Linked DNA regions of Homo sapiens. The protein of the gene in region 3 purifies or fractionates together with the protein of the main gene of each other region. This does not show direct contact. Each region holds a gene or a part of one and is shown on either strand. Other genes may lie near its edges. The genes, in order: MTCH2, SUGP1, DUSP23 and ADD2.

The links.
Region 1: the proteins of DUSP23 (region 3) and MTCH2 purify together in Homo sapiens (affinity purification with mass spectrometry, with the first as the bait; 2 studies listed by BioGRID). This does not show direct contact.
Region 2: the proteins of DUSP23 (region 3) and SUGP1 purify together in Homo sapiens (affinity purification with mass spectrometry; 2 studies listed by BioGRID and IntAct, with this or other methods). This does not show direct contact.
Region 4: the proteins of DUSP23 (region 3) and ADD2 purify together in Homo sapiens (affinity purification with mass spectrometry; 2 studies listed by BioGRID and IntAct, with this or other methods). This does not show direct contact.

Annotation. Positions count from the first base shown.
Region 1 is NC_000011.10:47,625,540-47,632,562, reverse strand, and holds part of MTCH2 (mitochondrial carrier homolog 2), read left to right. Parts: intron 1-851; coding exon 852-909; intron 910-1,475; coding exon 1,476-1,527; intron 1,528-1,948; coding exon 1,949-2,008; intron 2,009-3,516; coding exon 3,517-3,610; intron 3,611-5,435; coding exon 5,436-5,483; intron 5,484-6,821; coding exon 6,822-6,889; intron 6,890-7,023. UniProt on the Homo sapiens protein: Protein insertase that mediates insertion of transmembrane proteins into the mitochondrial outer membrane. Catalyzes insertion of proteins with alpha-helical transmembrane regions, such as signal-anchored, tail-anchored and multi-pass membrane proteins.
Region 2 is NC_000019.10:19,317,510-19,324,734, forward strand, and holds the start of SUGP1 (SURP and G-patch domain-containing protein 1), read right to left. Parts: upstream 3,001-7,225; 5' UTR 2,988-3,000; coding exon 2,954-2,987; intron 1-2,953. Other genes in the region: MAU2 chromatid cohesion factor homolog, read left to right, coding at 3,351-3,626.
Region 3 is NC_000001.11:159,776,414-159,783,044, reverse strand, and holds DUSP23 (dual specificity protein phosphatase 23), read right to left. Parts: upstream 2,084-6,631; 5' UTR 1,945-2,083; coding exon 1,678-1,944; intron 893-1,677; coding exon 707-892; 3' UTR 502-706; downstream 1-501. UniProt on the Homo sapiens protein: Protein phosphatase that mediates dephosphorylation of proteins phosphorylated on Tyr and Ser/Thr residues. In vitro, it can dephosphorylate p44-ERK1 (MAPK3) but not p54 SAPK-beta (MAPK10) in vitro. Able to enhance activation of JNK and p38 (MAPK14).
Region 4 is NC_000002.12:70,765,200-70,773,006, forward strand, and holds the start of ADD2 (beta-adducin), read right to left. Parts: upstream 3,002-7,807; 5' UTR 2,701-3,001; coding exon of another isoform or gene 2,687-2,700; intron 2,517-2,686; exon of another isoform or gene 2,405-2,516; intron 1-2,404. UniProt on the Homo sapiens protein: Membrane-cytoskeleton-associated protein that promotes the assembly of the spectrin-actin network. Binds to the erythrocyte membrane receptor SLC2A1/GLUT1 and may therefore provide a link between the spectrin cytoskeleton to the plasma membrane.

The DNA.
Region 1 (7,023 bases), on a different chromosome or scaffold from region 3:
CACGGTGAAACCGTCTCTACTAAAAAATACAAAGAAAAAAAATTAGCCGGGCATGATGGCGGGTGCCTGTAGTCCCAGCTACTTGGGAGGCTGAGGCAGGAGAATGGCGTGAACCCGGGAGGCGGAGCTTGCAGTGAACCGAGTTCGCGCCACTGCACTCCAGCGTGGGTGACAGAGCAAGACTGTCCTAAAAAAAAAAAAAAAATGCAAAAGCCAATGGTAGACCTGCTTACATTTGCAATCCCAGAACCTAAATGCAAAGATTATAATTTAATTTTCTTTATTACTTCCTTACAGAGCCCTAGAGTAGAAAGATAAACTAGGAAAAACACAGCAGCTCTAAGATACTGCACAGTTACTGGGTTGTAGTCACAAAACAAAATTGTTCTCTTCTCCCAAAAATGTGAGTAGAGACTAAATGGAGCCTGTCATTTATCTAGAATGATGTCAGACTCTCCAAAATCACTTACCAATAAGAGAGCAACTTAATAATCTCAATAAAGGCCTCATATTTTTTATTTCAGCTTAATGACTTTGTTGGTGACCTTTCCTGTTTCTTTATTTTTTTCTCTTACCTGTAAAATTGAGAAAACAACAGAAGCCTGCTTTGCAGAGAAATTTTGAGAAGTAACTATAATAGAACATTGAGATCCATGAGTGAAAAGTATGATAAAATGACAATGAATGAGATCTTTCACATCCCATTCAAACTCTTCTTGACTCCAGCCAGGGCAGGAGGGCTGTGTCATTCACTTTCTTATCCTATACCACGATATCCACCCACATTCCTTCTCACAGGCATTTGAGTGTCATTTGTTTAGATTTCAGAAGTGTGTGTTGATTGTTTCTAGACAACTCGAGAGATGATCGCTCGTTCTGCTGCTACCCTCATCACACATCCCTTCCATGGTATGTTTGCAGTTGACAACTGACCTTTCTTTTATAACCTGATCTCTCCTGACCACTTAGATAGGTTGACGTGGGAGTTGACTAAAATGCCTTGCCTGCATGTTTTTGTTTGCTTGCTTGTTTTGGCTTTTATCCAATTTATCCAGATAGCAAAATGTCTTTAGGTGGAAAATCTTTTTTTTTCCCAGGGCTATCAAAATCTATCTTAACATAGTTTTTTTTTGTTTGTTTGTTTTTTGTTTTTGAGACGGAGTTTCACTCTTGTTGCCCAGGCTGGAGTGCAATGGCACAATCTTGGCTCACTGCAACCTCAGCCTTCCGGGTTCAAGCAGTACTCCTGTCTCAGCCTCCTAAGGAGCTGGGATTACAGGTGCATGCCACCACGCCTGGATAATTTTTGTATTTTTAGTAGAGATGGGGCTTCATCATATTGGTCAGGCTAGTCTTGAACTCCTGACCTCAGGTGATCCGCCCACCTCGGCCTCTCAAAGTGCTGGGATTACAGGTGTGAGCCACCGCACCTGGCCTTAACATAGTTGTAAACATCTTTTCTCTATATTCCACAGTGATCACTCTGAGATCTATGGTACAGTTCATTGGCAGAGAATCCAAGTACTGGTAAGTATTTTTGTTTTCACATACTCAAGGAGATCTTTTGAAGCCAAAGTACTAGAATAATACTACTTTGTATTTTTATGATACCCTTACAATTTGTAGAACAAATTCGTATCTGATGTCATTTGATCTGCACAAAAAACAATAAAATGGGAGAAAATATACCCAGGCAGGTTTAGTAGCCTACGTAGGATTTCAGAGTAAGTTGCAGAGCCCCTGACTCCATATGACTATACCCCTAGGTAGTTAATATTTTCACTTCTATCTCCAAATTTAGCTATCTTTGCAGAGTGAGAGAGTGCTAGAAAAGTGTGAGGGAAGGAGGTCGTGGATTTGACCTTGTCCAATGTGATAATTGAAATTATTTTGTTTATAGCTCCAAAAGAATCTTAATATATTTTACCTTTTCTTCTTGTGTACGTAGTGGACTTTGTGATTCCATAATAACCATCTATCGGGAAGAGGGCATTCTAGGATTTTTCGCGTGAGTAAATGTTGATTAGTGTGTAATTTTTGCATGAGTGGGAAACGTTTTCTGAAAGTAAGAATAGTGAGTCTTTGTTTAATCCTTGGGGAAAACGTACTCCCTGGGCTTACCTCACGTTACATTCTATTTAGGCCCCTTATTTTTTTTTCTTTTTTCTCTGCAGAAAGGCATATTTAGGCCCCATATGACTAGAATTATCTTGTAAAGATCCCAAACCTTTACTTCTAGATACTTAAAACATTTGAGGCCGGGCGTGGTGGCTCACGCCTGTAATCCCAGCACTTTGAGAGGCCAAGGCGGTTGGATCACCTGAGGTCAGGAGTTCAAGACCAGCCTGGCCAACATGGTAAAACCCCACCTCTAGGTGTGGTGGTGTGTGCCTGTAATCCCAGCTACTCGGGAGGCTGAGGCAGGAGAATTGCATGAACCCGGGAGGTGGAAGTTGCAGTGAGCTGAGATTGCACCACTGTACTCCAGCCCGGGTGACAGAGTGAGACTCCGTCTCAAAAAAATAATAATAATTAATAAATAAATAAGGAATTTCTTTTTTTAACAAAGGACTTAATTCCAAGTTTCTACCCTTGTAGTAAACTCCCAATTCTATATAGATAATAAAATGAGAAAAATTAAATGTTGAAAAATGGGGAAATCATCTTAACTTGTATTTTCCTTACCGTAAAAGAGTAAGTTTTTGCAAGGCTTGAATTTACTTTGGAAGAACTTAGACTACTACCCTCATTCTTCTATGAGGAAAAATTTTGCATCATTACCGAAATGGTGTTTTTTGTTTTTTTTTTTTTAATTTTCAGAGTATCTCCCCATACGGATTTTGAATATCATAAATACCCTGTGAGATAGGCAGGACAGCTATAATTAGTATCACTTTAGAGATTAAAAAACATTGATGCTCTGAGAGTTTCATCTGCTGCCTGTCACATCGCTGCTGAGTGCTGGAGCTGGCATTTGAAGCTGGTCTTCAATCCGTGGGGAAATGCTCTTCCCACTATTCCATGCTGCCTCACCTAGGTCACCCAGACCCTAGAAATGTGGTTTTTGATGCCTCTCATCTGTATCTGTACTTGGGACCATTCTTGCTTTGTAATTTTTCTCGTCTTTTGCTCTGCCAAATATGAATATCAGATAGCTTAGCAAAATCATTTTTTTAAGCTAGTCAAAGCAAAACAATATTTAAGTCTCTTCTGCAAAGCACCTCGCAAATCTTTTGCCTCCCTGCTTACAGTTATGAATAGTAAGGTGAGCCACTGAGGGTATAGCCGACCTGCATTTTAAACATAGGAACAAAAGTCACTGGAGATCAGCTTCAAGTACAGCTGTGTTAACGAGAATGAACTAGGTATGCGGGCTGGATTCTGGTGTTTGATTCCTTTTTTACTTCCCTAGAATGTTTTGTGACCTCTAATTATTTGACAAACATTTGTACTGAAGAGCCTGTCATGTTACTGATCACATTTTTTGGTTCTTATTTTTATTGTTTCTTCATGTAGGGGTCTTGTTCCTCGCCTTCTAGGTGACATCCTTTCTTTGTGGCTGTGTAACTCACTGGCCTACCTCGTCAATACCTATGCACTGGACAGTGGGGTAGGTTGTGACCTTCGTGAGATGTGCTCACCTTGGCTTTAATCTGGCAGCTAGATTAGCTTTTAAAGTAAGATGGGCCGGGCGAGGTGGCTCACACCTGTAATCCCAGCACTTTGGGAGGCCAATGTGGGCGGATCACCTGAGATCAAGAGTTCGAGACCAGCCTGGCCAACATGGTGAAACCTCGTCTCTACTAAAAATACAGAAAAAATTAGCTGGGCGTGGTGGTGCGTGCCTATAGTCCCAGCTACTTGGGAGGCTGAGGCAGGGGAATTGCTTGAACCCAGGAGGCGGAGGTTGCAGTGAGCCAAGATCGCGCCACTGCATTCCAGCCTGGGTGACAGAAGGAGACTCCATTTCAAAAAATAAATAATAAATAAATAAACAAGATGACAGTTTGCTACATGCCAGACTGAACAATTATATAGCTAAAAATTATCAGTCAAATTTTCAAATGCTAATGAAATGAGCATACTGTTCACTGTAGAACGATACTGTTTACTGTAGAACGATACACGTTAAAAGTCCGTAAGATGTGACAGAGTATACCCAAGAGACTTAGCCCTGTGTTACTTCAGGGCTTTAAAGAGATCACTTCTTTACTGATACTTAACTTGAGAGAACCTGGGAAAGCAGGACATCTTTATGGTGTATCGGGGGCTTTTCATCTAATCTGGACTTAAGAGGGTGCCTGTATTGGGCTTTCTAGAAACCTCAGCCTTTTGAGAATCAGTCTTATCTAGAAGTTGTCTTTCTTATCTCAGCAGTTGTGGGGCCTCTTGTATGTCGGCAGCTCCATAGCATGATGATAAATTGAACACATCACAGGGTATATGACTAAATCCATGTTGTAAACCTCTTGAGTACAGAGAGGGATTTTCTTCAACGCATCTGGTAGAAAGCTAGCTGTGTAAAACAAAGGTAGTGAATTGTCCCTTAGATATACTATAAATGTGGTTTTCCAGGGACTGTATTTCTAGGATGTGTGAAAAGGTTATCAATCTCATTTTCTTTAGTATTTGAAATCCTTTTACATTCGTCCCTAAAGCATTTTAGTATAATATGAATTTGTCTGTTAATATTGAATCAGGTTGATCATTTTGACCACTGCCTTATTATTCTAATAATCAGTGTTTTATGGTTTTGTCCTCAAAATTAGTTTTAGACAGGTGTGGTGGCTCATGCTGTAATCCCAACACTTTGGGAGGCTGAAGTGGGAGGGTCACTTGAGCCCAGGAGGTCAAGGTTGTGAGATCACAGCTCACTGCACCTCCAGCCTGGGCAACAAGAGAGATGAGATCCTGTCTCAAAAAAAAAAAAAAAATTAATTTTCAAGCTGTCAAACTGATAATTTAGAGATAGACTATATTGACATGGAGAGCAAGGCACAGTAGCTCCAGCCTATGATTCCAGCGACTCAGGAGGCTTAGGTGGGAGGTTTGCCTGAAGCCAGGAGTTTGAAACCAGCCTAGGCAACATAGCAAGACACCGTCTCTTAGCTGGGCATAGTGGCTTATGCCTATAATCTCAGCACTTTGAGAGGTCAAGGTGGGAGGATCTCTTGAGCCCAGGAGTTTGAGACCAGCCTGGGCAAACATAGGGAGACCCTTATCTCAAAAAAAAAAAGACACCATTTCTTAAAAAATATTTTGAAATTAGCTGGGCGTGGTGATGTGTGCTTCAGGAGGTCACTGCACTTCAGCCTGGGTGACAGAGTGAGGCACTGTCTGAAAGAAAAAAAGAAAAGAAAAGAAAAGGAAAAAAGAATATATTGATGTGTTGTAGTGTTGTAGGTAATTAATTTAAGGCTCTTTTCCTATTTTAGGTTTCTACCATGAATGAAATGAAGAGTTATTCTCAAGCTGTCACAGGAGTGAGTTTTTTAAAATCCTTTTAACCTTCTAGGAATAGTTGTGTTTTGTTTTGTTTTCCTTTTAAATCTGGCTTGTGTCATCACTGCTTTAAGATAACCAGATGTCTCACTGGGACATCTCCCTGAAATTTGTTATATTTGTCAAAGGTAAGAATAACTCAGTTTTCGGCCAGGCGCCATGGCTCATGCCTGTAATCCTAGCACTTTGGGAAGGTGAGGTGGGCGGATCACCTGAGGTCAGGAGTTCGAGACCAGCCTGGCCAACATGATGAATCCCCGTCTCTACTAAAAATACTAACATTAGCCGAGCGTGGTGGTGCATGCCTGTAATCCCAGCTACTCGGGAGGCTGAGGCAGGAGAATCACTGGAACCTGGGAGATGGAGGCTGCAGTGAGCTGAGATCACGCCACTGCACTTCGGCCTGGGCGACAGAGTGAGACTCCATCTCAAAAAAAAAGAGAGAATAACTCAGTTTTCGAAGGAACCACAGACTCACATGTGAAAATAAAGAGAGTAAGGCAGAACCCCTGCCTCACATCCTGCATGGTTTGGTACTGCTTAGCTTTCATAAGGGGCGTGCCTTTCCTCCGAAATAATATTGTTCAGGCCAGACATGGTGGCTCACACCTGTAAACCCAGCACTTCGGGAGGCCAAGGAAGGAGGATCACTTGAGGCCAAGAGTTCAAGACCAGCCTGGGCAACTGAGCAAGACCCCATTTCTACAAAAGTGAAAAAAAAAAAAAAAAGCTGGGGCAGGCGCGGTGGCTCACTCCTGTAATCCCAGCACTTTGGGAGGCTGAGGTCGGGAGTTCGACACCACCTTGGCCAATTTGGAGAAATCTCATCTCTACTAAAACTACAAAATTAGCTGGGCATGGTGGTGCATGCCCGTAATCCCAGCTACTTGGGAGGCTGAGGCAGGAGAATCGCTTGAACCCCAGGAGGCGGAGGTTGCAGGAGAATCGCTTGAACCCAGGAGGCGGAGGTTGCAGTGAGCCAATATCACACCATTACACTCCAGCGTGGGCAACAAGAGGGAAACTCCATCTCAAAAAAAAAAAAAGTAGTTGGGTATGGTGGCGTGCGCCTATAGTCCCAGCTACTCAGGATCAGAGAATTCTTCTGGCCTTTTGTTAAAATGTTGGATGCAGTGGTGTGCTAAGAGGAAGAAGCATCTCCAGGCTCAAAACTGTAACTGTTGTCTTTCCAGGGTACCGATGAAGCGAGACAAGTGTTAGAGTGTCTCACCGCAGTGGCACTAGGCCTTTAAGGTAAAGGAAAGGAGAATAAAGACTAGGAATGATCTAATAACAGCTGCCTTGTTTCCATTTTACAGTTTTTTGCGAGTATGTTGACCTATCCCTTTGTGCTTGTCTCCAATCTTATGGCTGTCAACAACTGTGGGTAAGCACTTTGTATTTCTTATTCTAGTAGGTGGTTGACTGTATGCTGACAGGCGGAGCAGCCTTGTAGAAATTTAGGAAAGATGAATGATCAGTATCAATCTCTGATTGGTATTTTTTTAAAAAGGGGGGGAG
Region 2 (7,225 bases), on a different chromosome or scaffold from region 3:
ATGCAAGATCCATTGGGTCTTTTTTTGAGACAGGGTCTGGCTCTGTTTCTCAGGCTGGAGTGCAGTGGTGTGATCTCAGCTCACTGCAGCCTCCGCCTCCCCGGCTCAAGCAATCCTCCCACCTCAGCCTCCCAAATAGCTTGGATTACAGGCATGCACCACCTCACTTGGCTAATTTTTAAATTTTTTCATAGAGATGAGGTCTTGCTATAGTGCCCAGGCTGGTCTCAAACATTCTTTCCACCTTGGCCTCCCAAAGTGCTGGGATTTACAGGCATGAGGCACCGTGCCCCAGTGGCTTTTTTTTTTTTTTTTTTTTGAGGCGAACTGTTACTCTGTCAGCCAAGATGGAATGCAGTGGCACCACCTCGGCTCATTGCAACCTCCACCTCCCAGGTTCAAGCGATTCTCCTGCCTCAGCCTCCTGAGTAGCTGGGATTACAGGCGTGAGCCACCACACCTGGCTAATTTTTATATTTTTAGTACAGTTAGGATTTCGCCATGTTGTCCAGGCTGGTCTCGAACTCCCGTCCTCAAGGGAACCTCCAATTTACGCCTCTCAAAGCGCTGGAATTACAGGCGTGAGCCACCGAACCCAGCCTTCTTTTTTTTTTTTTTTTTTTTTGAGATGAAGTATTGCTCTTTTCCCCCAGGCTGGAGTGCAATGGCGCGATCTTGGCTCACTGCAATCTCCACCTCCAGAGTTCCAGCGATTCTCCTGCCTCAGCCTCCCGAGTATCTGGGACTACAGGCATCTGCCGCCATGCCTGGCTAATTTTTTCATATTTTTAGTAGAGATGGGGCTTCACCATGTTGGCCAGGCTGGTCTCGAATTCCTGACCTCAAGTGATCCACCCACCTCAGCCTCCCAAAGTGCTGGGATTACAGGCGTGAGCCACCACACCCAGCCGTTTTTTTTGTTTTGTTTTGTTTTTTTGAGACAGGGTCTCGCTGAGTTGCCCAGGCAGGAGTGCAGTTGCATGATCGTAGCTCACTGCATCCTCAAACTCCTGGGCTCTAGAGATTCTCCCACCTCAGCCACCCGAGTGGCTAGGACTACAGGCACACTCTACCAGGCCTAGCTATTTTCTTTTATTTTTTGTAGAGACAGGTTCTTGCTATGTTCCCCAGGCTAATCTTGAACTCCTGTCCTCAAGGGAGCCTCCCATTTAAGCCTCCCAAAATGCTGAGATTTTAGGCATGGATCACCACACCTAGCCAATATCCACAGGGTCGTTTTATTTTCATCCTGGCTACTAGGTAATCATTCTGGCCAGAGAATCCACAGGCAACAAGACCAGGGAGGCTCACTGGCTCCAAGCAACAGACAATGATGTCTTCAGACTAGGGTGATAGTATGGAGACAGGGAAGACACCTCAGAGGTTCCCCATGGGACTCAGAATAAAATCCAAATTTTAAAAGTCTGAGCCGGGCATGGTGACTCACACCTGTAATCCCAGCACCTGGGAGGCTGAAGCAGGCAGATCACTTGAGGTCAGGAGATCGAGACCAGCCTGGCCAACATGGTGATACCCCGTCTCTACTAAAAATACACAAAAACACTGGCCAGGTGCGGTGGCCGGCGCCTGTAATCCCAGCTACTCAGGAGGCTGAGGCAGAAGAATGGCTTGAACCCGGGAGGTAGAGGTTGCAGTCAGCCGACATCGTGCCACTGCACTCCAGCCTGGGCGACAGAGCGAAACTCCGCTTCAACAAAAAGAAAAAAAGAATTCTAAAAGGCCATTTTCAAGGCCCCGCCAGATGGTTCCCCTCCCTTCTGCTTCATCCTTGACATTCTTCAAAAGGACAAGCCCATCCTACCAGGGCCTCTGCATTTACTGGCCCCCCTCTGTGTGGAAGGCTCCACCCTCCAGGGATTCCCATAGCTGGCATTCATTGTCTTAACTCAAATGTCCTCTGCTTGAAAAGGCCTTTCCCTGGGCCAGGTGTGGTGGCTCACACCTTTACGTAACCCCAGCACTTTAAGAGGCTGAGATGGGAGGATCGCTTGAGCCTAGGAATTCCAGACCTGCATGGGAAACGTGGCAACACAAAAAACACACAAATTCGCTGTGTGGTGGCGCGCATCTGTGGTCTCAGCTACTAGGGAGGCTGAGGTGGGAGGATCACCTGAACCCAGGGAGCCACAGTGAGCCACTGCACTACAGCCTGGGCGACAAAGTGAGACCCTGTCTCAAAAAAAAAAAAAAAAAAAAAAAGAAAGAAAGAAAGAAAAGGTCTTTCCTGACTACCCAATATCAGAAGCCTCCACTCTGATCATATCATACGTAACCTCACATCATACGTAAGTTTTTGTAAATATTTTCTCATTAATGCACTGACACCCCAGTAGAAAGCAACCTCCAGGAAGGCAGGGCCCTGTTTCGGTCACCGCTGCATGCGTAGCGCCCAGCACACTGCTTGGCACACAGTGAGCACGCCCTAAGTATCTGCTGATGGGTAAATGCATTCTATTCTGGGGAAGCAGAAAGGCCAAGGCTTGCAGCAAAGTGAGGGTCAAAAGACGCGGGAAAGTGTGTCAAGGGAGCCTCAAAGCACTTCGGAAAAGCAGCTTTTCCAGAAAGCGGGACACAGGCCAGAGGCCAGCTGCGACGAAAAGAGGGGTGCAGGGACAGCCCAAGGTTGTCGCCGTATTGGGGAACGGAGGTTGGAGCAGCCCTGAAGGCGGTTGTTTCGGAAACGGGACGCAGGGCCGAGCCGGGTGGCGGCCTCTACGGAGATCCGTGCGTCCTCAGCAAACCAAGCGGGGGCGGCCAGCAACCTGGGTCTGGGGTCTCGAGAAACCAAGAGGTGCAGAAGCCGACGCTGTGGGCTGCCCCGGGGCTGAAGCGAGGGATCCACGGGTCGCAGCAGGACGGACCCGAGGAGTCAGGGGAGACACCTAGCCCCAGGGACCCAGGCGGCCGCCTGAGAGGAGGCGGGGGCTGTTACCTGCAACATCCCGGTTGTCCATCTTGAGACTCATCCAATCCCACAATGCTCCGGCGCCCCTTAAGGGGCCCTGTTATAGTGTGCATCGCCTGATGGGAGATGTAGTCCGCCTCGGTCAGACTCGCCCTATTACTGCGTGAACGACTGGGTTTTTTTTTTTTTAACCTCCAGAAACGGAAGCCTCAGCCTATCAGCGATGCCTAAGTCCCAGTCACGATAACCAAACGGCGTCGCCCTTTTACACCTTCCCGGAGCGGCAGTCATCCCAAATACAAACTACATGTTCCAGGATGCTTTGGGCGGCAGATCTCGCGGAAGCCGCGAGGAGAGCCCGGCCCCGTCTCGCGCGCCTGCTTCCGCCTCCCTGTGGCGGCGGCTTGTTGTTGTGGAGGCCAAAATGGCGGCTCAGGCGGCGGCAGCGGCCCAGGCGGCGGCGGCCCAGGCTGCGCAGGCCGAGGCGGCCGACTCGTGGTACCTGGCGCTTCTGGGCTTCGCTGAGCACTTCCGCACTTCCAGCCCGCCCAAAATCCGCCTGTGCGTGCACTGCCTGCAGGCCGTGTTCCCCTTCAAGCCGCCGCAGCGCATCGAGGCCCGTACACACCTGCAGCTGGGCTCCGTTCTCTATCACCACACCAAGAACAGCGAGCAGGCGCGCAGCCACCTGGAGAAGGCGGTGAGCGCGGGCCGGGCCGCGAGGGAGGAGTCGCGGGCTCCTTGCAAGATCTGGGCTGACGGGTCGCGACCGCGGCGGGTGGGGGGCCGCTCCTCGGCGACCTGGGGGCGCGACCTCCGTCAAAGCCGCAGGACCCCCACCCGCCTCTGCCGGACCCCAAAGCCACCAGCCTCTCAAGGGACACGAAAGCCTCGCCCCCCACGCCTTATTTCCCGTTTCTGGTGACAGGGCTCCAGGAGCCCCGTCACCGTACTCTGAAAGTTGCCTGTTATTGGGAGCAACAGGATCCGCAAATCGTCTGGTTTTCAGGAGGATCCCACCTGTTGGTGGCGATGGGGACATCACAGGGTCCTGAAGCTATTAGCTCCTCCTGGTTCAGCTTCCGGAGCATCAGCCCCAAACGCTTCCACCTAAAGTGACTTGGGGTAGGGGTTGGCGAAGGCGAGACCCCTGGCATTCTCCCGGGAATCTGAAGTCTGGTCTCTCAGGAACCTGGAAGGGCATGATTCTCCTTGGACACAGAAGTTTGGTAATCGTGGTTTTTGGAGGGTCTTGTGCCCCCATCAATAATGCCTGGTGTCGTACGAGGGAAGCTGAGACCCGGAGTCTGGAGTTGGTCATTTGAGGCCTATGAGGAGGAGAAACAGGGGTTCTGGATTCCAGGCCCCGCTGTTCAGTTTCAGTATTAGGGGAACTAAAAGCAGCTCCTGCTTTTTCTCCATCCACTGGTGACTTCTACCATCCATCAGTCCATCCTCTTCCGTCAGAGTGAGTCCCTCCCCTGACCCAACTTGATTTGTGTCATCTTGGTGCCTCAAAGAATGCGGGAGAGTGGCTGTCATTCTGCCCTTTAGTAAACTTTCTTTTTTTTTTTTTTTTTGAGACGGAGTCTTGCTCTGTCACCCAGGCTGGAGTGCAGTGGTGCCATCTTGGCTCACTGCAAGTTCCGCCTCCCGGGTTCAGGCCATTCTCCTGCCTCAGCCTCCTGAGTAGCTGAGACTACAGGCGCCCGCCACCACGCCTGCCTAATTTTTTGTATTTTTTAGTAGAGATGGGGTTTCACCGTGTTAGCCAGGGTGGTCTCCATCTCCTGACCTCATGATCTGCCCACCTCGGCCTCCCACAGTGCTGGGATTACAGGCTTGAGCCACCGCGCCCGGCCCCTTTAATAAACTTTCTAGGGCCAGGCTCAGTGGCTTATGTCTGTAATCCCAGTATTTTGGGAGGCGGAGGCAGACAGATTACTAGACCCCAGGAGTTTGAGACCAGCCTGGGCAACACAGTGAGATCCCGTCTCTACAAAAAATACAAAAACTAGCTGGGCGTACTGACGCGGGCCTGTAGTCCCATCTACTCCAGAGGCTGAGGTGGGAGGATCAGCTAAGCCCCGGGAGGTCGTGGCTGCAGTGAGCAGTGATCACGCCACTTCACTCCAGCCTTGGTGACAGTGAAACCCTGTCTCAGAAAAAAAAGATAATAAGGAAAAAATAATAAAATTTCAGGCTGTGGAGTCGTTTTTTTCTCACAGCAGCGCTGTGATCCTGTCAGACCCCTGCCTCCCTTTTACCTTTTACCCAGCTCTGTCCTGCTTGAATAGAAAATTATTGAAAAGAATCAACTCAGATTTTAAAAACTCATTAATCTGAGGTAAATCCAAGCCCACCCTCAGCTAGTAACAACTTGCCTTGAGGAATAGATCAAATCTTTGTTTCACAGACTGAAAAGTTGGAAGGAGACTTTATTTTATTTTATTTTATTTATTTGTTTATTTTGAGACGGAGTTTCGCTCTTGTTGCCGGGGCTGTAGCGCAATGGCAGGATCTCAGCCCACTGCAACCTCCGTCTCCCGGGTTCAAGTGATTCTCCTGCCTCAGCCTCCCGAGTAGCTGGGACTACAGGTGTGCGCCACCACACCCAGCTAATTTTTGTATTTTTAGTAGAGACGGGTTCACAGTATTGGCCAGGCTGGTCTTGAACTCCTGACCTTGTGATCCACTCCCCTCGGCCTCCCAAAGTGCTGAGATTACAGGCATGAGCCACTGCGCCCAGCCCCAGATAATTTTTTTTCTTTTTTTTTTGAGACAGATTCTCGCTTTGTCACCAGGCTGGAGTGCAGTGGCGCGGTCTTGGCTCACTGCAACTTCCGTCTCGTGGGTTCAAGCAATTCTCTTGCCTCAGCCTCCCGAGTAGCTGGGATTACAGGCTTGCACCACATCATCTGGCTAATTTTTGTATTTTTAGTAGAGACAGAGTTTCACCATTTGGTCAGGCTGGTTTCGAACTCCTGACCTCAAGTGATCCGCCCATCTTGTCCTCCCAAAGTGCTAGGATTATAGGTGTGAGTCACCACATCTGGCCAGTTTTATTTATTTATTTATTTATTTATTTTGAGACAGGGTCTCGCTCCATCACCCCGGCTGGGGTGCACTGGCGTGATCTCAGCTCACTGCAGCCTTGACCTCCTGGGCTCAAGCAGTCCTCCCATCTCAGCCTCCTGAGTAGTTGGGACCACAGGTACGCACCACCACACCCAGCTAATTTTTGTGTTTTTTGTAAAGACAAGGGCTTGAACTCCTGAGCTCAAGCCATCCACCTGCCTCAGCCTCCCAAAGTGCTGGAACTACAGGCTTGAGCCATTGTGCCCAGCGTGGAAGGCAACTTTAGTCCTCACTTGATCAACTGCCTTGTTTCAAAAGGGAGGCATTATGGGCCCAGAGAGGTAAAGTGATTTGCCCAAGGCTGCACAACAAGTTATTGACAAAACTAGGCTCAAACTCCAGCTCAGTGATAACCAGGTTACATGCCAAGATGATACATCATTATTGTTTTGGTGAAGTTTTTTTTCCTTTGATTCATTCAACAGATACTTGTTCAGCTCATGCAGGATGCCAAGCCCTATTTTTGGTGCCGGGGGATCAGCAATGGCTAAAACAGTTTCTGCCCACGTAAGCCTAGGTTTTCATGAGGAAGACAAATGATAAGCATATAGTAAGAGGTTAGGCAGTGATGGAAGAACCTTGAGAACTGAACCAGGGAGAAGAGATGGAGTTGACTTGGAGCTATTTTTGGCAGAGGTAGTGAGAGAGTCTCTATTTGTGGGAGTGACATTTGAGCAGAGGCCTGAATGGGTGGGGCAGGGAGCCTGGAGAACCACTCGGGGGGTCAGGTTGATGGCAAGGAGTGCCTAAGCTGTCGGGGACTGGCAGATGGTATCAGGGTCTCTCCAGGGTCATGATGAGGCTGAGATCAAATGAGGCACCAGACTTTATTGACTGGGAGGGGTCTGGTGGCCCAGCATCTCCAGTGGATGTGCTGGTTCTAAAACTCTCCTTTCTCTCCATGAACAACTCCCACCACCTGCCTTCCCTTGTCTCCCAGGGCTGTTCAGCCTGTTTCTGGCAGTGGCTAATAGTCACTGTGTGTACTGTCGTATTTTGCCCACTCAGCCCTGTCTAGGAGAAGCAGTCATGCTGCAAATTGCTCGCTTTACCACTTGGCTTTTGGACCCATAATTTAAACCCTTCTCCTTGCGAAGTGCCTTTGCTCTGTCAAATGGAACTTTGAATCTTGAAGGGTCTTCCACTGAGCCACATGGTGCC
Region 3 (6,631 bases):
AGAGAGCCCAGATGAGCTGAGCAGCACCTGAGGTTGGTAAGAGGTGACCAGCCCTGTGGAGGTGGAGATGGTGGTTATCTGTGAGTGTGACATCCAGGCTGTCTCTACCCCCAGATAAACAAGGGTGACACGTGTGCAGCAGGTGGGCCTACACGGAGGGGCCTCCTGGCCTGTGAGCATCAGAGACCTGGGAATGCCAGGAGGCCAGGCTATTCTGGACCTGAATCCTTTTCATTGACTAGCTCCCCCAGAAAACACATCAAATATTGTCAGGGAACAGATACATAGCATTTCAGCATCTTCAAGGGATTGAAGACGTGTGTTGCTGTTCTGGCCCATCCTTCCACTTTCTAGAAGTGTTGAAGATGGGCCTCTCTGAGCTTTGCCCACCTCATCCAAAGAACAGAGATGGCCCATCTGTCTTTCCTGTATCACAGGGCTACAGTGAGGCTGAAGTAAGTTAATGTGTGGGAATGCTTTATAAAGTACCATGCAACGTGCCCTGGTTCGTAAAACTCATTTATTCAACAAAGCAGTACAAGCCTCCCCTTCAATCAGGACCTGCCTGCAGGGGTGGGCTACTTCAGTGTCTTCAGCCAATGGGAGCTAGAGGGTTTAATACTTTAGTCCACTTCCCTTCATCTCTGGCCCCATCGACAACATGGGGAAGGGGAGTGAGGGCCTGGTAGAAGGGTACTAAGGCCCCTTATTTCGTTCGCTGGTAGAACTGGAAGACTGCTTTCTCCTGCTCATAGGTCTCGATGGAGCCGGGTCGTAGTCGTCGGATTTCAGCAATGGCATCTCCTGCAGCCAAGCCCCGCTCCTTCACCAGGTAACAGGCCAGCATGGTGCCAGTGCGGCCAAAGCCCAGAGCACAGTGCACTCCCACAGCCTACGAAGAGGGGGCTCGATGGGTGCCACTCAACTCCCCCACCCACAACTGTTTCCTGCCCCTCACTTGGTTCTCCCCACAGCTCCTTCTTCTGTGCCAGGTCCAGGGCTCTGCAGCAAAGTCAGGGAGGGCTGTCCCTGCACTAGGTGGCTAGGAGGCCTCTGCACTGGCTGGTTCAAGAGCTGTCCACCTCTACACAGCCCTCCACCTGTGGTGTTCAATACAGAAGACAGTAGCCACGGCTACTGTGGCTACTGTACTCGAAATGTGGCTAGTCCAAACTGAGATGTAGTGTGAAAAACGCAACAGGGTATGAAGAGGTAGTAGAAAAAAGAATGAAAATATCTCATTAAGATCACCAAAGTTAATTTTATCTGCTTCCCTGCTTTTTAAGAATGCCGTTGCTAGAAAAATTAACATTACATGGAGCCACTTAGGTTCCATTATATTTGGACAGCTTTACTCTAGAAAATGGTAAACAGCCTCCACCTGACTTCAACCCCCACCTCTCCCAGGTGTCTGTCCACACCCTTCTCCTTCACAACTCACAGTATTAGCTGGTTTTCACTGCCTCTCCTCAAGCCCAGTTCGCACTGCTTCGCCCTCTCTTTAGTTCCTTCCGTTTAGCGCTTCCCTCCCCCGCACTGGCTTCCCAGTCTCCCGGCCCTACTGTCTGCCTCCCCGAGCCCAGTTAAGTTATCCCAGGCCCGGTCTCCCCAGCTCCGCCCGTGTCCCCCGCTGACCTTCCAGGCCCCTCCCTCCCTGCGCTGACCCCGCCCGCTGACCTCTCCCCGTGCGTTGGCCTCGTCCACGATCTGCACGAAGCGGTCGATCTGGTCGGGGGCCGGCGGGCAGAAGTCGGGGATGCGCAGGCGGTGCAGGGTGAGGCCGGGGCAGCTGTCGCTGTGAGGGGGCCCGCGCTCCGTCAGGGACACCAGGTGCCGCACGCCCAGGTCCAACAGGAACTGGTAGTGGGCGGGGAGCCGCGGCAGCGCCAGTCCCGCCAGCCGGCCCGGAAGCACCCAGGAGAAGTTGGGGGGCTGCACGCCCATCGCTGGGAAAGGGCACAGGACAGCGGGTCATGGGGGCCGAGGCTGGCCAGCCCCGCTCCGCCCACGCGTCCCCTCGCCCGCTCCGAGCCAAGTAACTCACCACCTACCTGGCCTCGGCGCCTCCCGGGCCACGTGGTCTGCAGGGCGCCGCCCTCGGGTCGCTCTGCCCAGCCGCGGGGATTGGCCCAGAACCTGGGGCGGGGCTGGAACGCGGAACCCAGTCTCTGAGCGACCGAGGGAAGCGCCGCGATCCCGCCCCGTCCGAGCAGATCACGCGGTGATTGGCTGGATCATCATAATGGGCGGGGGGTTACTTCCACGGGGTTCAACCCACTCAGCTAAGAAGGAAGACCTGGAGCGAGTTAGGAATTGTTTGCTGCGGATGGAACAACCCGGGGTCGGGCTCTGCTGCACCCTGGCGGCATGTTGCAGTCATTGCGTCACTGGCGCCTGCCCCTGCCTCCTCGCGGGCCGGCCTAGTTCTACCTCCTTCACGCTGGATGCCCTGGGGTTTAAGAGATGACAAATCGGCTTTCTCCCAGGACGAGGAGTCTCCTCTCTAATGATTGACTGGTCGTTATCAGCGACTTTTTGAACTGTTCCAGTAAGAGGGAATTACTGCTGCAAGGAGGCTATTCTCATTTTTTCATTGCTGGAACTATTAAAAACTTACCCAGGGTAATAATTATAGTAATAATAATAACCAGCACCAACTTCTCCTGTCAATCCAGTTGCTCCTCAGGACTTATTGAGCATTTATTATGTGCTAGATAGTCTTCTAAGCACTTAGCACATACTGACTCATTTAATTGCCACAGTAATCTTATAAGATAGGTGATCTAGTGAATCCCATTTTATGGATGAAAAAACAGAGGCACTGGAGAGGTTAATAAACTTGACCAAAGGATGATGACTAATGCCTCCAAAATCTTTAATAATATCGCCATTTCCTAAAGTTAAATGGAACATTGTTTTCTCTTCACATAACCCCCTCATGTCCCCAAATATTATCTGGGTTAAACGCTTGTGGGTTTTCTTAATTTTTATTAGTATTTCATATTTCTTCATTTTTCAAGGTTTCCTAGTTCTCTGGGTCACTGTCCCCTGGGCAGGCTAGAGTTGATTAGTGTTGTTCTTACTAGGTGGGGGCCCCTAGATCTGAACACCGTTTCCACTGTCATCTGACCAGTCCATATCCTCATTTGAATAATGTGCTTCTAGCGATGCAGACTAACTGTAATTATGAAAATAGTTAACCCTTATTGAATTTGTTTATGTACCAGGCCCTGTGCCAAGCGCTTTCTGGAAGAACCACATGTGAAAGGTATTTTTGTATCTTTTTTTGTACATGAATCATTGGAAGCTTAAAGAAGTTGGTTAACTTGGCCAAGGACACAGTGATCCAAGCCCAGGGCACTTGGCCATGAGGATGTATTATATTTCCTTCCCTTTGCACCCACCTATGACACACGTCTGACCATTTAAGCCTTTGGCTTCAGCAAGATGGAAAGCAATTTGTCTTCTCCTAAAGATCAAAGCCTGCTCTGACCCTGTGGGAAATACACTTACCATTTACCCAGACAATTACTTTCCCCAGGTTCCAGGAGGTGCCAAATCTCCCCTTTTTCTCCTTCCAGACAATCACAGCCCTCATTAAGCCCTTCCTGTTTGCACTCTCATTTCCTACATAAATTCCTATCAAGGTTACCAGCCCTCCCCAGTTTATTCCTTTCTCTCTTTCCCAGCCATGGCCTCTCAGCCACCAGTCACCTCTTCCCCCAACCCCCTGACCTCCCACTTCTCTTCTCAATTCAACTGCTCTTCAGGATTTCTGGTTGCACTACCTCTGGAGACAAGACTCTAGCATTTGTTCTTGTAAGTTAATCTTTTCTTAGTCCCTTTGCCTTGTTCTCCTTTCTTTGCTTCCCCTACTCACCAGGGAAGTTTCCACTTCACTCCCTACCCTCCTATGTGCTCCTTCTTTGCCTCCTTGATATCCAGCTCGAAGCCCATATTCTCCAGAAAGAGAAAATTTTTTTGGGAGACCGAGATCTTCCTCTTCCCTGAGTCCCCTACCAATGATTCTCTCCCTCTTGTGGGTTTCTGCAGGGCTAGCAGTGCATCCATCAAACCATTAGGGCCTCCATGTGGAGAGGCCAGTTGGCTCCCTTTTTAGGAAGCTCTGCCCTTCCCTTCCAGCAGACCCAGAGTGGAAAGGGCCCAGGGTCCCTGCCTTAAGCTTTGTCAAGGGTGCCATATGTCAAGGGTGCCATATGATGTTTTGTCTTGGGCCCAAGGGGCCTCAAACTGTAAGGAAAAACCCTCTCTGATGGTTTCCTGGCTCAGACTTCTGCAATTAACAGGACTTCTGCAACTAACCACCTTCTTGTCTGCCCACATACATGATACTGACCTTCTTTTATTCTCTCCTCTGTACAGAGTTACCTGACCCTCAGGAAGATTTAGGCTTTTTTTTTTTCTCCCATCTCACCTTGTATAAATATGTCTTCTCAGTATAGTAATGTCATTGGATTGAGGATACTTGTTTGCAGAGGAGGCAAGAATGCGTTGTTCCGTTTTTGAATTCCACACATCTAATATGGAGCCTGAGCCACAGGGCTCAAAATGTTAAGTAAACAAATGAATGGGAAATTAATAAGAAGAATGCATTGGCAAGACCGTGAAGGTACATTTCTAGGAGTGAATGTGAGTCTGTCGGACCATGTGGCAATGTGTATTTGTAATTCTTTTTAAATGCACAAGTTTGAGGACTGTGTTGAGTATTGGGTAGTATCTCTTTGAAGTGTATTTTTTACTTGACTGTGCTTTTAAATAAAGAATGGCTGTGTCAGTATGATCTTGGCTATGTCTAATTACTATTTTTGTGAAATGGGACAAATAAAGCTTGTTCTTTATAGAGCACTGCTCTTGTAGTGTGCATGTGTGTGATGGCTTGTGTATTTGAGTGCTTTGGAGGGGCCGTGTTCCTGGAGAACAATCTATTGACACTGATGGTGGGCTGAGTAGTAAGCTTAAGAAATTTCCCTGACTTCAAGGAATTTACAACATCCTTGCGGGGGATTTAGACTCTGATGTAATTATTCTCAGGACATATAATAAAGTACTAAATTGCTCATCAAAGACAATCAGATAATACATATTAAAAAGCTAATTGTGCAGTAAAAACAAGTGCAAAAGAAGTCAGTGGGGGAAAGATAAGCTTGAATTGGAACTACCAGAAATGTCTTATGAAGAGAGGGATTTTTCTTTCCATTTTGTCTACTGTCCAATGAAAAGCTCAGCAGACCCAGCAATCCCATTACTGGGTATATACCCAAAGGAATACAAGTCATTCTTTTATAAAGATACATGCACCATATGCTTATTGCAGCACATTCGCAATAGCAAAGACATGGAATCAACCTAAATGTCCATCAGTGATAAAGAAAATGTGGTACATATACACCATGGAATATGATACAGCCATAAAAAGCAATGAGATCATTCCCTTGCAGGGACATGGATGGAACTGGAAGCCATTATTCTCAGCAAACTAACACAGGAACAGAAAACCAAACACTGCATATTCTTACTTACAAGTGGGAGCTGAATGATGAGAACACATGGACACATGGGGATGGGGAACAACAAATGCTGGGGCCTGTCTGGGGTGGGGACTTGGGGAGGGAGAACATCAGGAAGAATAGCTAATGGATGCTGGGCTTAAAACCTAGGTGATGGGATGATCTGTGCAGCAAACCACCATGGCACACTTTTACGTATGTAACAAACCTGCACATTCTTCACATGTACCCCTGAACTTAAAAGTAAAAAATAAGGCTTAACAGAACATTTTTTAGGGCATCTCAGCTTCCCTTTTTCCAGCTGATAAGAATGTTTTGACTTAGTTCTTGTTCATATTGAGGCCCCAGTCCCCTGTTTGGCTTGATGCTAGTGGCAATTAGGGGTGCAATTGGAGTCAGAGAATTTCTTCCTCCAGGTAGGTCCCTGTGTTCCACCAATGCAAAGGATTGCTTGGGTTCAGGTTCCTGTGGCCCTTGGACTACAGTCAGAATTCTCAGTGTCCTCAGTGTTCTGATTTTTTAATGTCTAAACACACTTCACACCTAAGATCTGATAATCTGGAAACTGAACCTAAGAAGAAATGGTATGGCAGCTAGCTTCCAAGATGGTACCCAATGAGCCATTTCATGCCTGTGTAGTGCTTTTCCACATTGATAGGGCTGATTTTTGCAACCAGTAAGATATTGTGTAACTGGTGGTGTGTGACTTCCTAGGCTGCATCATGAAATACTTAATTTTTGCCTTGTTCTGTCTTGGAAAGAAGGCCTGCCATGGGAAGCTTTGGGAAGAAGCCAGCTGCCATGTTGTGAGAACTCTCAAGCAGCTGTGTGGAGAGATCCATGTGGTGAGGAACTGAAGCCTCCTACCCACCATCAAGTCAGTGGCTCACTACTGTTGCAGTGAATTCTCCAGCCCATGAAGACTTTAGATGATTTACCCAACATCTTGATTATAGCCTCATGGATTCCCTGAGCCAGAACAACCCAGCTAAGCCTCTCCTGAATTCCTTACCTACAGAAACTGTGAGATAATAAATATTTATTCTTTTAAGCCATCAAATTTTGGGTAATTTATTATGCAGTAATATGTAACTAATATAGAT
Region 4 (7,807 bases), on a different chromosome or scaffold from region 3:
AAAATTAGCCGGGCGTGGTGACACGCACCTGTAGTCCCAGCTATTCGGGAGGCTGAGGCGTGAGAATCACTTGAAGCCAGGAGGTGGAGGTTGCAGTGAGCCGAGATCATGCCACTGCGCTCCAGCCTGGGCAACAGAATGAGATTGTGTCTCAAAAAAATATAAAACATAAAAAATAAAAAAGAATTGTTGTGTTTTTATGTTCTGGCCATATAATGTTTTGTGTTTTGTGTTTTTCCCACATAGCTGTTATCACAATTTGTAATTATATATTCATTTGAGAGATTTCTTGATGAGTGTCCATTTCTTGCATTTGTCTTTAAGCGCCCATTAGACACAGACCACGTCTATCTGCTTTATCCCTTTGTTCCCAGTACGTCTTACAGAACCTGGCACGTAGTAAGTCCTCACTGAATGTTTGTTGAGTGAAGAAGTGTGTGAATGAGTTTAACAAATAAATAAAACATATAAGCCATGGGTTCGTCAATTTCTTTTTTGCTTATGCTGCAAGAAAGTTTAGAGCTGTTTTTGTTTCCTGCCCGTAGCCATTGTAGAAGGTCTCATGCTCATGTTTTTGTATCAGCCTCACGCTTAAGACCATTTTATGACTCCACCCTTAGTGTCCTTTTTTCTTTCCCAACTACTTCCAAGTTAGGCTGCCTTGCCATATTTATGAATCCCTGTAAACTATCTTAAATCCCTTGTGGAAGAGGTGGTAATAAATAAATATATCTACTAGTCTTTTTTATATATATTTAAAATCTTAACACTAAACCCACTGCCAGCAAACACATTTGCTCAACTGTTAACCTTAAGAATAGCTGAGATTTGCTAATTCCAACACTATACTAATATTTAAAACAAATTCAATCCAAGCCTAGAAACCACAGCATATCATGTCAGGCATTGTTGTACATTGTGTATATGACAAGCATATTTCTAATAAGGCTAGGCAATTTGGTGGACAAGAAAGAACATAGGGCTTACTACAAAATTCTTATGGATTTTGGATCAAAGAATAATTTATCTTTAGTGGTTTTTCAAAATGTGTTGACATCATACCAATAATGAAAACTTTGCTTTTACTTGTGCCCTATGCAGGGAGGAGTAGGGAAGAAAGGCTGGGCAAGATCCTGATCTATAGGAGAAAAGTCTCTACAGAGAAAAGTTTGATCACATTACACAATTAAAGTAGAACCTTATAAAGTAAAAATATTAAATGGTCTAAACCCCCCTTTTAAGTCTCTAACATATATTATTCATATGCTAATGGAGATATTATTTGCAAGTCTGAAACGTCATAGTTCTCTTCTTTGGTCAGATTCATTTAAAACACTTTTACTTCAAATGCTGACTTGCTATTTTTCTCTTAAAACGGAACATAATTTTCTAATGCCATTAATGAGAACACCCCTCACTGCACAAGTTAAACATCTCAGGAATCCCAGCTAGATCCACAAACTAGACATGAAAGCAGTTGCTTGCACCCTCTCCAATCCCTTTGCTTCTGCCAGGATGCCAGACCAACCACTCCTTTTGGGTTACTCGGGAAGCACGAAATGTGCATTTAGGAAACTGAGATTTGATTTCTATTATCGATAAAGCTCATCTGAGTCAGTTGAATCTTAGACGACAAACAGCAAGAGGGAAGAGTGGGTGTAAGGAAACAGATGGGTATTAATCATGTGTCAGAGATAAATGACAGTTTTTTAAAGAATTTGATAGGGTGTGGGCTGGAGCTTGCTTTTTTATTTTCTATTTCTATTTCCTATTTTCTATTTTTAGTTTTGGGCAAGAGATGGAGATTAGGGGTGAGAAAAGGAAGGAAGAGAAAAGGCAAGACAATAGGCCAGACCCGAGAGCCTGATCTGCATCCTAAAGCAGTCTGCCCCTCCCTCCCTTCCCCCCAACACCAGGTAGGCTGTGGTGTGATTTAAAAATAAGCAGACACCGACTCCCGCCTCCGGGACCGGGGATGGCCTCCGCCCCGGCTGCAGAAAGGGAGGGGAGGCAGGGAGAGGAGAGGGAAGATGGAAGAAACAGACTGGCAAGACCCCCTCGGGTACAGTGGGATTTTTCCCTCCAAAGTGGTGGAGCCGCATAAAATCAAAACCCACGAGGCCCGCTCACGTGCCGGTTGCCCCGATCTCAATGTAGGCGGCTGCCGACGCCGCACCTGCTCGGCCGGCCACTGCGGCTGAGCGCCGCGCAGCCAGCGATCGCGAGGCCCCGGGGGACGCGCCCAGCCCCGCCAAGCCCGCCTCGCACCGCTACCCCGGAGGGCGGCGGCCGAGCGGGAAGGAAAGAGAGGGGAGGGGAGGGAGGGGAGGGGAGGAGCGGCCCCGCCCGGCTAGGCGAGGCGAGGCTTGCCGCCCCTCCATTCGGACCCAAAAGAAAGCCCCACCTGTCAGGCGTTACGCTCCGGGCGAGGGTCCCACCATCCCCAAGCAGGGGCCAGTGCTTGCAGCCCCGATTTCCTAAGAGCCTCGGATGCTACATCATCACCAGAAACCTTTAGGCGCAAAACACACCGCTGCCGGCCAGGGCTGCAGCACCGACGCGCTCGGCAACAGACGCGCCCCACCTGGGCCAAGCGGCTCCCGCCCGGCCGAGGGATGCCAGGGTCTCCGCGCCAGGAGACCAGCGACCCCAGGCAGCCCACCAGGCCCGCTCCCCAGACCCTTACCTCCTGCGCGGCATCTTAGCTATCTCCGGTCGGCCACTGCGGGTTGGTTTTGTTATTTTATGGGTTTGGGGGGTGGGGTGCGCTTAAAAAATCCACCCAGCTAATCTGCAGGGCAGCGTTTTCTGCCCATGCTGCAGCCCGCGCTCGTCAGAGCTGCTGGGAGATCCCCCAGCAGTGCAGCGGCTCCGCGGCGGCGGGGATGACTGGCCACCGACGCCGCAGTTCCTTGACAAAAGGCTCGGGTTCCCGCTAGTCCCTCACAGCCCTGCCGTCAGAATTAAAGCCATTTCCCGCACGAGGCTGGGAGGAAATGAGAGCTCTCCTGGCCCTGCGCGCTGACAAAAGGCCGCTGCGCGGTGCCCACAGCGCCCCCTCCAGCAGGCCGCGCCGGCCGCCCGAGGGCCGCGGTGCTGCAGTGCCCCCGCCCGCAGCGCCCCCCACCGCCCCGCAGCGGCCTCGCCCCGCAGCACCCCCACTACCGCCCCGCAGCGCCCCCCTCCTCCCCGCAGCGCCCCCGCCCGCGCCGCCGCAGACCCCCCTAGCCAGGCTTCCAGCCCCCTTCCACCCCCGCCCCGCACCACTCACTACCCGGGATGGCCAGAGCTAAGCAGGGGAGTCTGTTACTAGGGAGAAAATCTGAAACAGAGCTCCCTTGGGGGAATGTATTCTCCCTGGAAGGAAGAAAGCAAAAGTCTTAGACTTGGAATATTTCTTTTCGTCTGGAAAGGACAGCTAGCCTTCGGAAGATAATTCTATTAGTGATTTTAATAGCAATTGTTTGACTGAATTCCAAACCAAAATTCTCCCTGTCCTGATTCTCACTCCTTTTCAACCAGGACAACATTTTTGTTGTGGCCCTGCCCTTGGGGGCTGTGGACCCAACGCTCTCCAACTCTCACTACATTCTCCTCTCACTCCTTTCCTTCCTCAGGTCTCCCGCCCCAGAAGGAACAGGTGTGTAGTGAGTGGGGAACTGGATAGGGAACCAGAATACTTCGGTTGCCGTCTCAGAGCTGCTCTTAACTAGCTGTGAGACCTTAATCAACCCACTTAACCTCTCTGGGCCTCGTTGTCTTCCTCTGTAAAATGACAGTGTACCTAAGGCACCTCCCATTTCCAATACTTTCAAGGCCTGGCCCTCAGAGAGTAGGGGTGTTAAGAGATAGCTCTGGACTTTTCACCCCCATAATCTCCACCAGTCCCCAAAACTCCCCTCAATCAACATCCTCTCCAAGGGCTTTTGAAAATGTGCTTGTGAAAATGTACAGCTTCCAGAAAAGCCTCTGGCCACTGATCTGAAACCTGATCATGGCCCCTCTGCCCTTCCAGGTTCTGGGGCACCACAGCCCTCAGACACCCCCACAAAAGTCACTGGCCCCCACCACAGTGCTGCTGTGGAACCAGAATCTCTGGAGGTAGGCTCAGGATTGGTAATTTTAACAAGCAGCCCTAGTGATTCCTTTGCACACTAACACTTTAGAAACACCACTCTGAGAGCTACTACTGATTTAGAAAAGAAAATGCTAACGACAACCCTAGATGCCAGGATAAACTTGTCTTTCTGCTTCAGCCCCCCTTCCAAGAAACATACATGCATACCTGGTCCCTGCACCCTCCTTCCACACTCAGAGCTTCTCACTCATTCTCATTCAGAATCACCGAGTCCACAAGACTTCTCCCCATTCTCCTGTCAAAACCTGCTAGAAGAATTACAACAGGCTCAGCCACACAAGATGAAACCCCTTCCCCTCCCCACCCCAGGACCTAGGTCTGTCTGGTCAAAGAAGCCAGGACGTGTTATGTTTATTGAGTCATTCCTGGCAGCCATAGCTCTTTTGGTGCTAATGGGTGATGAGATCTGAGAAACAGGGAACCCCTTCTCCAGAGCTCAGAAGTCACAGGTAAGGTGGGCTCTATATCTTAATAGAACCCCCAAAAAGAATGGAGAATTTTTGTTAGAAATAGCAGGTTTCATAAGTCACCCCAGTCATTTCCATCCCCCAAAATTTCTCTTCCTAGTGTGTTATTTTGTTTTCTCACATGAATCCTAGCAAACCCTTGTTGGTTCCTGGCACTGTTCTGAGAGCTTTACATGCATTTTCACATAATCCTTGCAAAAACTCTGTGAGGGTGGTACTATTATCATCCCCATTTTATAGATGAAGAGACTGAGGCACAGGGATGTTAAGTCGCTTGCCCTAGGTCACACAGCTAGTGGGTGGCTGAGCAATGAATCAAACTCAAGTGCTGTGGCTCCAGAGTTTGTGGGCCCTAACCACTACACTGCATGGCCTCCCAGAGGGGACAATAAACTTTTTTTTTTTCTTTTGAGACAGAGTCTCATGCTGCCCCCCAGGCTGGAGTGCAGTGGCATGATCTCAGCTCACTGCAACTTCCTCTCCCCAGGTTTAAGCGATTCTCCTGCCTCAGCCTCCCGAGTAGCCGGGATTACAGGCACGCACCACCACACCCAGCTAATTTTTGTATTTTTAGTAGATATGGGTTTTCACCATGTTGGCCAGGCTGGTCTGGAACTCCTGACCTCAGGTGATCTGCCCGTCTCAGCCTCCCAAAGTGCTGGGATTACAGGCGTGAGCCACCACGCCTGGCCAAAAATAAACTTTTTAAAGCAGAGCTGGTACAAGACACTGAAAGGCTGATAAGACTAATACATTCTCCTTCCCCCCGGCAAAAAAAAAAATGATTCTGCTCCCCTAGTCATCACAGGAGATACATATATATATTTATGTTTATATATGTATATATTATATATATTACATATACACAATATATATTATATATATTACATATATTTTTATATATATATGTCCGGCCTCTCCCAGGGTCTATCTGATACTGCATACTGAGAAGGTGGTGCCATCCTGGGACTTTAGGAATTGTCCAAATGTCAGAGAGGAAATAAGACTTCATTAATTCCCATATTCATAGCCTATATGAAATTTTAATTGAAGTTCCAGAAATTCTCAATTTCAAATTCACTTCAAAATCCAGGAAAAGGAACCACAACTGTAGTTGGCTCCAACTGTCAATGGGAGACCAGGAGACTTCAGAGCTCCCACTGCAACAAGCCCAAGATGCCTGGCCCTTAACTGGGGCCAGAAAAACACAAGAGACCCCCATGTCAGACCGGGGAAAAATCACAGCTGGCTAACCCTCCATGGCCAGATAGTTTAAAATTAGACTCTCTGACTGATTTGCAGTAAAATTTCTCATCTTCCAAGTCTTCTGACAAAAATGTTTCTGGCCAAGAATAACTAGTAGAGAGAGAAGCTGGCAGTGCAACAGTGAGCCCCATCTCCTGGTATCCATTGCCCTGTGTATTACCCTCTCCTTAGGTGCTGGCACGACTGTGGCTCACTTCTAACCGACAGGATAAGGCAAAGATAATGGGATGTTCACTTCCGTGATTACATTACATAAGATTCTTTGTCTTGCTAGCAGACTGTCTCAGTTGGCGTCTTGACCTGCATGCTTTCATTAGTAGCCATGTTTGGAAGATCTACATGGCAAGGAACTGAGGGTGACATCCAGCTAATAGCCAGCTGGAAACTGAGAACTTCAGTCCAAAAAAGTCCTAGAGGAAATGAATCCCACTAACCATCACATAAGTTTAGAGGCTGATCCTCCCCCAGTTAAGCCTTCCACTGAGAACCCAGCCCTGGCTGACACCTTGATTTCTGCCTTGTGAGAGACACTGAAGCAGAGGACTCAGTTAAGTCATACCGAGACTCAACTCCTGGCCACAGAAACCATGAGATAATAAATGTGTTGTTTTAAGTTGCTTAGTTTGCATTAATTTGTTACACAGCAATAGATAACTAATACGGGGGCTTAGCACTCTATAGGCCCAGGCATGCTTATCAATGGCCTTTTCTAGGGCATGCTGGAAATGCTGGAGAAATCAACACCCCTGGGATCAGCCCTCAACCAATGACCATTAGGAGTTTGTGGATAAACAGCCTGGCTCCCTCATCCCTGAGAGTTGGGAGAATACCTCAGTGTTCTCCATTGTCTCCCAGAGAGCCTCAGCAGGATTGAGCCCCAGCTGCCCACAGCAGTAACCTACCTGCTCACTCACGCATCTTTTATGGGCTTTTCTTCCCTATATCACTTTCCCACTCCCTTACAGGTGCCTCCCGGGCTTGCTTCCCAACTTACACTCAAATCGTAATCTACATTTAGGGGAACCCACTTTAAGATGGGGCAAGGGAAGGAAGACAGTGCTTTCAAAGGAAGACCACTGATAAGTTGTAAGTCTAGATGTTCTGAAGATACCCAATAAATGAAAGTTCACCTCTATGGCTGATGCTGCTCTGGAAACAGAAGTGAATTGGGAGTCCAGGGCCTAGGGCTCCAATCTCAGTCCCAGGGAATGTGTGGACTTAGGAAAGACCCTGACCCCTTATTCTCCCTTACCCAGCTATAAAGTGAGGGTGACAGCACTTGCTCTCTGTTATGGGCTGAATCTCATCCCCCTCAAATTTATGTGTTGAAGTCCTAGCCCCCAGTGCTCCACAATGTGACTGTATTTGGAGCTAAATCCTTTAAAAAAGTAATTAAGGTAAAATGATGTCATATATGTGGGCCTTAATCCAGTATGACTGAGGTCCTTATAAGAAATTTGGACACAAACTGGCATAAAGGGATGACCATATGAGGACACAGCAAGAAGGTGGCCATCTACATACACTCCAAGAAGAAATCATACCTGCCCACACTTTGATCTCAGACTTTGAGCCTCTAGAATGGTAAGACCACACATTTCTGTGGTTTACCATTACCATCTGGGATGCTTTGTTATGGGAGCCCCAGAAAACTACTACATCCTCCACCTGGCCAAGGTTGTCATGTAGACAAAATGGGACGCCAAGTGAAAGCACTTATGGTCTTATTACCTATTGAGACAGCCAGACAGTGTAACCCCAGCCACACCAGGAAATAACCAGAGTGGTTCCAGAGACAAGAGAGCCCCAGACTCCAGTTCCCACCCTCATGTTAGGTCCAGACCTGGAGAGCTGTGGATAGAGCTCTTCATGTTGAGCCCTGATAACATGTAAGTCCCTCTGGGGGAGGCCTTCCTGTACCCGATGTTAAGTGCAC